3 separate regions of the Homo sapiens genome follow, and all the other regions are reported to be linked to region 2. Evidence: microRNA targets listed by miRTarBase, many of them from high-throughput screens and not tested one by one. Region 2 holds a microRNA gene; each other region holds the end of a gene's coding sequence.
What was found. The annotated mature microRNA hsa-miR-148a-3p reads UCAGUGCACUACAGAACUUUGU and lies in region 2 at 1,225-1,246, shown strand. An mRNA with a match to its seed (bases 2 to 7 or 8) in the 3' UTR can be bound and repressed. Matches are read on the target gene's strand: a 7mer-m8 pairs with bases 2 to 8, a 7mer-A1 pairs with bases 2 to 7 and ends in A, and an 8mer does both.

Region 1: the mRNA of GOLIM4 is a reported target of hsa-miR-148a-3p. The part of its 3' UTR that is shown has no 7-base or 8-base seed match.
Region 3: miRTarBase lists OR2C3 as a target of hsa-miR-148a-3p. The part of its 3' UTR that is shown has no 7-base or 8-base seed match.

The regions. Positions count from the first base shown.
Region 1 is chr3:168,007,511-168,010,510 of GRCh38, forward strand. It overlaps GOLIM4 (golgi integral membrane protein 4), which reads right to left. Exons shown (of 16, transcript NM_014498.5): 16 at 1,179-2,908. The coding sequence ends at 2,759. Among named protein-coding and RNA genes, the nearest start is that of GOLIM4, 87 kb to the right of the region's middle.
Region 2 is chr7:25,948,004-25,951,167 of GRCh38, reverse strand. MIR148A (microRNA 148a) reads left to right here and starts at 1,182; the gene lies at 1,182-1,249. All of the region lies in intron 6 of LOC105375199 (a long non-coding RNA gene), which reads left to right. RefSeq lists a silencer at 89-228 and an enhancer at 3,072-3,141.
Region 3 is chr1:247,528,844-247,531,843 of GRCh38, forward strand. OR2C3 (olfactory receptor family 2 subfamily C member 3) reads right to left here. Exons shown (of 3, transcript NM_198074.6): 3 at 1-3,000. The coding sequence ends at 2,706. It overlaps GCSAML-AS1 (GCSAML antisense RNA 1), which reads right to left and starts at 1,961. Exons shown (of 4, transcript NR_027309.2): 1 at 1,747-1,961. It also overlaps a transcript of GCSAML not described here.

The DNA.
Region 1 (3,000 bases), not on the chromosome of region 2:
CACAGAAAGCTAGGCTAAGGAAATGGATTCAAGACATTTGTATAACACATAGATGGGAAGAGGATTGAACAGAAAAAATACCTCTAGTACAAAACCTGAGGAACACTAATATTGAAAGAGCAGGCATAAGAAGAACCTGTAAAAAAAGATAATGTAGTCAGTATGCTAGGAAAAAACTAGGAGAAAACAGTAAAACAGAAACCACAGAAGGTGATTGAGAAATAGAATTAACTCACTCTTTTTAATGGCTGTGTAAGATGACATAGTATAGATGTACTACAATGTAATAGAACTAAAAACAAAACTAAGCATTAAAAGAAGTTAAATGTTAAGTGCTTTGGAAGACAAGGTTCTTCAGTTGTGAGAAGCGGATTCCATCAACCTTACAGGAATACTGTGGGGATTGAAGTGGATCCTATTCACATACTTCTTACACTATGAGGGCATTCAATACACGTCAAGTTTTCCTTTGTAAAATTAAGTCACTGGCACATGTGGCTAAGATTATGCTTTTACTCCTAGAACTCTTCCCAATCACTCTTGCAAATAACCAGTCATTGCATGTGTACTAGTTTTGTTGTGCCCCGTTATACTCATTGCCAATAAACGTGCCTTCCTCCCACAACCCCCACCCCCCACCCCGACTATACTCTTGGTACCAAATCCTTTGATTTATTGGTTGCACCAAAGTCACAGACTGGCAGAATAAATACTGGTGACATTTTATTTCTTGTCACCTCATTAACGTAGATCAGCTCAGGCTGATTAGTTCTCCTCTACACATTAGTTAGAATGGCTCTGTAACTTGGTGCTATACAGAGAGTAGAATGGTTTGTGATTGTTGCTTTCCTAAGGGGATTTAAAGTTTTTCATTTATTTTTTGTGTGTGCATGCACATGACACTCTCATACATTCTGCCCCATTTCTTTTTTCTTCCCTCAGAGCTAGCTCAAATAAAATAAACATCTTTAGCTCTTTCTTTAGAAAAAGAAGGGAAAATCACATGCCAATCCAAGTAGAGAAAGATACAGAAAACAGAAGCAGGTGGGAAAAGGCACTTTATAATTCATTAATTTATATTGGTATCTCTTAAAATTTTTCTTTTTATGAAAAAGAAGTGAAGAATGTTAGAAGGTCATAAACTAATAAGAGACCACATAGTTTAAAAGATTTGCCACTTTTTTTTTTTAGCTTTATTGACTATTACCAACTTTCAGTATGGTTCAAATAATTAAATACTGCAACTGGGACATTAAAAATACAAGCTAATTTACCAAAATAATTGTATTCTGAATATTATGTACAATATTATACATTTTACATTACATAATGGGTTTTTATACATAAAGGTAAGATTTCTGATTATTGGAAATACAAAGTACAACTGAACAAAACATTCCTATGCGTACATACACAATCACTCAACTGGAACAATCAAAACCATCTATGAGTGTGGTTATTAAAAAATAAAATTACGTTCATACAATGGTAGAAAATGAAATGTTTTTATTAATTTGATTATTAATACAAAACCACACATATATGAATTATATAACCTAGTGTTATATATTTAAAAATCTTTATGCTTGCAACTGAAATGTCTCTACTCCAAGGGAAGTTTCTGATTTTTAATTTTCTTATTTTAAGGAATCTATTATATTCACAATGATTAAAATGCCTTACACATAGGCAAAAAGCAGACCCAATCCCAGCAAACAGAAAAACCATAAGTCTATCATATCACCATATGTTTCACCATATAGTTTTGAAAAATAATCCTATTTGCAGTTTGGTATGTCTTCATATTTATACTTATTATCAAAGTGATTGCATATTGAGGCACAGAGCTTAAAGAGGAAATATATATTACTTATAGGGAACCAGACACTGAAACAAGAATATCAATCAATGGCTTCAAACAAAAAAAAAAAAAAAAAATTGAGAATGGGTGCTCGCATAGAAACACCACACGCAAACACTCATTAGTTTTTAACCAAGTCACTAGTCCTTCCAAAAGGTGAATATGTTGATGTGTCCATACCTTGTTTGAACACTGCAATACCTGATTAAGACCAGGATACTGCCACATGAGTTTTAATACTCTCTCATTTTTAAATTCAATTCCTCTTAAACAGAACAGCTATGATTTTAAAGCAATGACATTTTTCTAATTGATCTGAAAAGTCTGAAAAACAATGTCTTTACAACAAAAATGGATTTCCAATTGTATGTCACTTTGTACATAGATCTCACTCCAGAGATACATAGACTGGTGAAAATTCTATCAGAGCTATACATAAAGACATCAGAAGGGCAGCAATTAGTAAACAGGCCATTCTCTTTAAAGTCTGCATGGCATTTTGCAGTACTCTCTGTTCTTAAATCCTGTATTTTATCAAAGGCAAACAAAGAACACCTGGGAACTGGAAGCCAGAAAGGTAACACGCTGAAACATATACAAAATCAATGAGCTTTCCAACATCACATAATCTATTAAAAAAATTGGGACGTGGGGGCTCAGGTTTACTTTATTGTTTTTCTTCTTTTTCATGTTTAGCTTGAATATAAAAGAAGCTCTAGACCTACGTTATCAAAATATATTCATATAAATGTATGCGCATTTCTAATACAAAAGTTTTAAAAAAGTCTAAGTTCTTAATTTTTGTAATTAAATATCCTAGAGTTCAGTAGGCAGATTTATGTTTGAGCAGCTTGAAAAGAATCCGTTGGCTGAGCGTTGTCTAGAAATTGGGTGCCGCTACATTTCAGCTCTTCGATGTGATTTCTCAGCAACTGCAGCCCCGTCTTCTTCCTCCTCTTCTTCCTCCTCGTAGTGTTCCTCTCGGCCTTTGGGGCGGTTGTCATCTCGAACTTCTTGCTCTTCTCCATCATTATTTTTATCATCAGTCTTAAAATTAAAAGAAAAAAGAAAAACTAAGAGATAGTATAGAGTTAGTGATAAATAATTCTCTCTAAAAACAGGATGAAAAATTACTCATT
Region 2 (3,164 bases):
CCACGTCGGCAAAAGTCAAGATGGAAGGGAGCGGAGCGGAGCGCGAGGGGGGAGCCGGCCCGGGAATGCCTGGCGGCCGGCGCTGGAGGGGCAGGCTGGGGAGCCTGCGGCGGGCGCACGAGGGGCCACTCGCGAAGGTGTCCCGGCCCAGCGCGACCACCGCCCCCAACCCCGGGAGCCTCTGGGCGCCCCGCACTCCGCCAGCCGCCCGTGCACCCCGGCCCGGGGGACGCAGCCCACTGCCCCTCCGGCCTTGTCTCTTAGGGGTGGCGGGGGATGGAACGGTGGCGAGGGGTTTGGGGGAAGATGGGAAAGCACTTTCCAGACCTGTTGCACGCGCGCAACAGCTGTTCAGGTGCGGTATGTGGGGGGAGGGGGTCTGCTAGGATGGGGGACAGAGTGGTCGCTTATGCTGCAGGGAAAAGGGGGTGCCGGGAGGGGGAGAAGAGCAGTCTTGGGGACTGTGTGCAAGGTTGTGCGCGAACGGGGTCCGCGGGAAGCACTGCCTAATGGGGCAGGGAGAATCCCAAAGAGTGGGTGGGTGGAACGGAGGGGATGGGACGACTTCGACCCGAGTTCCCGGGGCTGGGCGCGGGCGGCTGGAAGACCGGGAATAGAGTACTGGGAATGGCTGGGGAAGGGGGTCTCAGGGGAGGCCCCGCAAAGCGGGTCTTTCTTGGGTCGTCCCATCTTAGGGGCTTTTCCCGGGCCTGTATTTGTTCCCCACCGTTTAACTCTTTCAGCTCCGAATATTCGTCCTCGTGCAGCGCCCCCGCCCCCAGCTTTCCAGATGGGAAGGTAAAAAGTTGCCACAAGTTAGAGTGAGTTAGCTGCTGGCAAAAGTTTAAATAACTACCGAGGGAGGTGAGGGTTCGACCAGGAATGGGTTCTAATCTGAGGACGGGTAGGAAGGAAGGAGAGTGTGCGATTCTTGCAGCCCCTTTGCTGTGACATTGCGACCAGAATTTGTCGAATCGGGCTGTTAAAACACCATTTCTGTTGGGCATTTGCTCCTGCTGACTGCGGCAGTAACTTTCCATAATTAATGACCCGTTCCATTATCGGTCGCATCCTGAACTAAATTGCTTTTAACGAGTTATTCTTCTTTGTCTTAGCTGGGGGGTGGGGGAACACACCTGCAGGAAGAAACTTCTGGAGGAAGACAGCACGTTTGGTCTTTTGAGGCAAAGTTCTGAGACACTCCGACTCTGAGTATGATAGAAGTCAGTGCACTACAGAACTTTGTCTCTAGAGGCTGTGGTCGCCGATGCCGCCAGTGCTCCAGACGCCAGGCCGAGTGGCCCTGGTGGCCACGTCGCTGCGCCTTTCCCTTGGGGGAGGGGCAAGGCCAGAGGGGGTCCAAGTGCAGCACGAGGAACTTGACCAATTCCCTTGAAGCGGGTGGGTTAAACCCTGTAAATGGGAACAAAATCCCCCCAAATCTCTTCATCTTACCCTGGTGGACTCCTGACTGTAGAATTTTTTGGTTTAAAGAAGAAAAAAATAAAGCTTTGGACTTTTCAAGGTTGCTTAACAGGTACTGAAAGACTGGCCTCACTTAAACTGAGCCAGGAGAGCTGCAGATTTATTAATGGGTGTGTTAGTGTGCAGTGCCTTGCAGGAATTTAAACTCTCTACCCTTAAAGAAGGAAATGTATTTGTACAAAAGCCACAGATAATGGTCCTTTTACTCAAGCGACCTGCTGGATAAATGACAGCCTGCAGGGATTGAGTTTGGAGATCTAGTCTCAATTCTGCTTCCGATTTAGATGCAGTTCACTTTTGTTTTTTAAAGTAAGTTTTATTAATGGAAAGGAAGAACTTTTTCCAAGAAAGCATTTTGAAAGCCACTGGGGGAGGGGGACATTTATGCTTTTGGGCTGTGGAGATCCTTTAGGTGGAGAGACTGCTCTCTCATCCCTAGTGGAATGGAGGTTTGGGTTGGTGAGTTTCTATCAATAGCCTGCTCTCTATAGTGGGTCAGTGACTGGCACCAAATTGTAGTCCTGTTCCATGGACATTGCCCTGTTTTGGTTTTATGAGCTTTTGGCCAGGCACAGGACGCAGGGTGGTAGGGAAAAAAGGAAATGGTTCCTGTGCCCGTGGTGCTGACAGGTAAGGGAAGGGCCTTCTGATGTATTTTATGGGATGCTTCAGAAACCTGGGGGTTGCTTGTGTCTCTGGGAAGCCCTTGGTAAAGAAAGCCACCATTTTTTTTACTTAGGTATATTCCAGTGGTTTATCATCGGGAGAGGGATGATAATGGAGGAAGGCTCAATGAGGGAGAAAGTATTCAGCTGCTTGATGTTAGAGCTTAATGGCAGGACCTACCAGTTGCTTTTCACAGAAATGCTGTGTATTGATCCTAAGGCAGCATGTGTTCTCTTTTGTGTGGCCATTATCCATTCTCCCACTTTTCCATCAGTGACTGCTTTGCTTTTGTTCCTCAATCCTTTACCCAAAAATGGCTGAATTATTTCTGTGCAGTTAAATAAAGTGATCCAAACTCAAGTACGTCTTGTGTTCATTTGAGATGTAAGGTATGCTTACTTGAGGAAGAGGATTCTCTTTCCTAGTTCTTATGTCTGTACATCTCCACAAGATAGTCTGAATATACTGAATTTTAAGAAAACTTAAATCAACTTTGTAAGAGAATGGGAGGTAAAGAGTGGAGCGGTTGACTGGGAGAGTAGTCATCCATACAAAGGAATTAGGTCAGGATCTCTCACCTCCAGAGAAAGGCAAGGTTTGGAGTCCCTGACATGATTCAGTCTGGTTTGACTTCTATGCTTAAGTGATTTGCATTTCTCCTGTTTGTGACCACAAGTGAGTTAAGGACTAACCAAGCAGGAGGGCTGTGGTTTACTCTGGTGCTAAGGATGCCAGGAATAGGAACTGGGAAAATCGGCAGTCTTGGGGTGCTTACTGTAAACCTGGCATGGTCTCATAGACCTCAGTCGTTTAGCAATCAGTGTATTTTCACCTCCCGAGCATCAGGTGTTACTCTAGACGTTACGAATGCAACAGTGAACAAAATAGGCCCCGAACCCTGCCCTCTTGGAGGTCTTTCTCATGCAAGAGGTAGACAATACAAATATAAAATAATCAGAAGGGTGATAAACGTCAGGGAAGGAAGAACAAGGAACGCTGGGGAGGCCGTGGTG
Region 3 (3,000 bases), not on the chromosome of region 2:
GCACAGATCATGAAGATATCTGTCTGACATAAATGCCCATGAGAGGGCATCCACTGCAGAGATGGATCTTGGTGGTATGGTAGATAAGATGACTCATCTAGTAGGTAATCAGTCAATCTCTTTTGCCAGCAGGCTTGCTCATTGAGCCTATGAGAAATTTAACATGGAAGCAGGGATGGAAACTATGAATGGGCTCAGCATTATGACATTTCTCTCACCAAGGTTAGCATGTGATTTGGCACTATTTCCAGGCGTCTGGCTGGACTAGTAGCATAGTGATTACTCTGGACTCCTTTGAGCATAGAGTAAGCAATGTTAGTCTTTATAGGGACAGAATAATATTGTGGGGACAGTTTTGTCTTCCATGCCCGAACCATTTACATAGTGAACAAAGCCTTAATCATCACCATGGCATCCCCTGCAATATCACCTGTAACCAGGAAACATATTTCACAGCAAAAGGGGTGTGGCAATAGAATTGCCCTTGGAATTCATGATTCATACTTCATACCTCAATATTCAGAAGCAGTGGGCTTGACTGAATGATGGAATGGGCTTTATTGAATGATGGAATGGCCTGCTGAAGGTTTAGTTATTGAAGCTGAGAAACAATACTGTGTAAATAAGCACTGCTTTCCTGCAGGCTGCAGTGTATGCCCTAAACCTGCAGTCACCGTAACCTGATACATGAGTCCAGAAACCAACAAGACATGAGAGTGTCTCGTACATGATGCATAATAATCCAGTTGAAGAATGTTGCTTCACTTCACTGAAAGTTTGGGTTTGGTGTGATGGTTCATTTTACATATCAACTTGGTTGGACTATGGTGCCCAGTTTTTGTTCAAACACAAGCCTCGGTGTTACTGTGAAGGTGTTTTTTTTTTTTTTTTTTTTTTTTTTTGATGCGATTAACATTTAAATCAGTAGACTTTTAGTAAAGCAGATTACCCTTTATAATGTGAGTGGGTCTCATCCCATCAGTTGAAAGCCTTAAGAGAAAAGACTGACCTGCTTCCAAAAAGAGGGAATTTTGCCTCCAGACTTTGAACTCAAGCTGCAACATCAACCTCTGTCAAAATTTACAGCCTGCTGGCTTGCCCTGCAAATTTCAGACTTGCCAGTTCCCTAAATTGTGTGAGCCTATTTCTTAACTCTCAATCTCTCTCACTCTTTTTTCTCTCTCTCCCCCTCAGGGTGTGTGTGTGTGTGTGTATTCTCTTTTACACATATTTTTGGTTCTGTTTCTCTGGAGAACCCTGACTAATACAGTGAATTGGAAGATCCTAGTACGAAAGGAAAGACTACTTTAATGACTACTTTCATATTATATACATATATATAATAAAATCAAAAACAGGAACTGCCACATGGTTTTGGTCTTCCCATGCCTTTGAATCATCAGGCAGAGAATGAGGTTACTCTATTGATAGAGGTGAACTCTAGTGATAGGTTACTCTATTGATAGAAGTTCTTTAACATCTGGAAAGACTAGCTGTTGTAAATTAGGACTCGTTTGTCCTTTAGATACACTGTATACATAGATAAGTAAAACAAAATGCACAATCATAAGAAACAATGGTGAATCTCGCCTCACTGTAAGCACACTGGCTTAGAGCTCTCTGCACCTCCCTTTTCCCCTCCTTCCCTGAACCAGTCCACAAACACCATGCCATCCCCCCCCCACAAAATAACATTTCCTATGAATTTTAACAAAAAGTTATTTACAAAATGTGTCATTTTACTACCTCTAATTTTAACATGTATCAGGTACTTCAGAACATCTAGAAGAAACAGACATCTCAAAAAAGCTTAGCGTTGTTACCTCTATATACAGAAGTAATAAAATGCACACAAAACAATGGATAGAATATGAAAATGTCTTGGAAATACGACCCGTCAGGACTAGGTAGGTCTCGCCCAACTGCGACAGAGCGGTCGCCCAGGACGTGGACCTGCCGGCCGCCTCTGGACCGCCTTCCTCGCCCTCCACAGCCTAACGGCCTCCGGGCGCATTTGGGCGGCGCCATGTTTCCTCCCCGCTTACCGCCGCCACCCGAAGGCGCTGAGTCCCGGCGGCTCGGCGCGGTCTTGGTCTGGGTCGGTGGGGTTGGGCCGGGAGACCCGCGGCCGGCGGGGTCCAGGCTGGGGGAGGCCGCCGCTGCCACCAGGTCCCCGAGGTAGGGTAGGAAGAGGTTCGCCGCGGCTTCAAGGCCTGGGCCGAGCGGGGGAGCCACAGCGAGGGTTCCGGAGCCTGCAAGGCGGAGTCCCGGGCTCAGCTCACCCCAGGCGCAGGCCTGAGGGCTGGGAGGGCTCCGGGGGCTCTGGGGAACAGGCCGGCTCCGGTCTCCCCGCGCGCTCTCAGCGTCGTCAAAGTTTATTATCCACGGAGCGTCCTGGAATCCACCCGCTTCGGATACTGAGGAACAGCTGAACAACAACGCAAGGAGTTTACAAAACAAGATGACAGTCAACATGTGTATATATAGCAAAAACCAACAACGCAATTGAACAAAACTATGATAATTAGCAAATAATAAATGTATTTTCTTGGTCTGGAAATGGCATGAGCACACTCCTTTCAGATTTCCATCTACCTTGAGCTCAAACAATATTAGAAGAAAAACGACATCCCAAGTGCCCTGTCTTCCAAGGTCACTTTGCTCGATGTAAACTTGATCTTCCTTCTCAGAAGGCACTGGAGTCTCTAAATTTGCGCCAGCTTGCCTGCAGAGCCACAGCAGTTCTCTAATACCATGTGCCGGAGGGCGCTCTTCACCTCCGTGTTCCTCAGGGTGTAAATAAGTGGGTTCAGCGCAGGAGTGACTACGGTGTAGAACAGAGCTATGAACTTGCCCTGCTCATGGGAGGTGCTCTTGGCTGGCTGGAGATACATGAAGATGATGCTCCCGTAAAACAGAGACACCACAGCCACGTGGGAAGAACAGGTGTTGAATGCCTTTCTCCGCCCTTCTGCTGACCTGATCTTCAACACGGCCCGG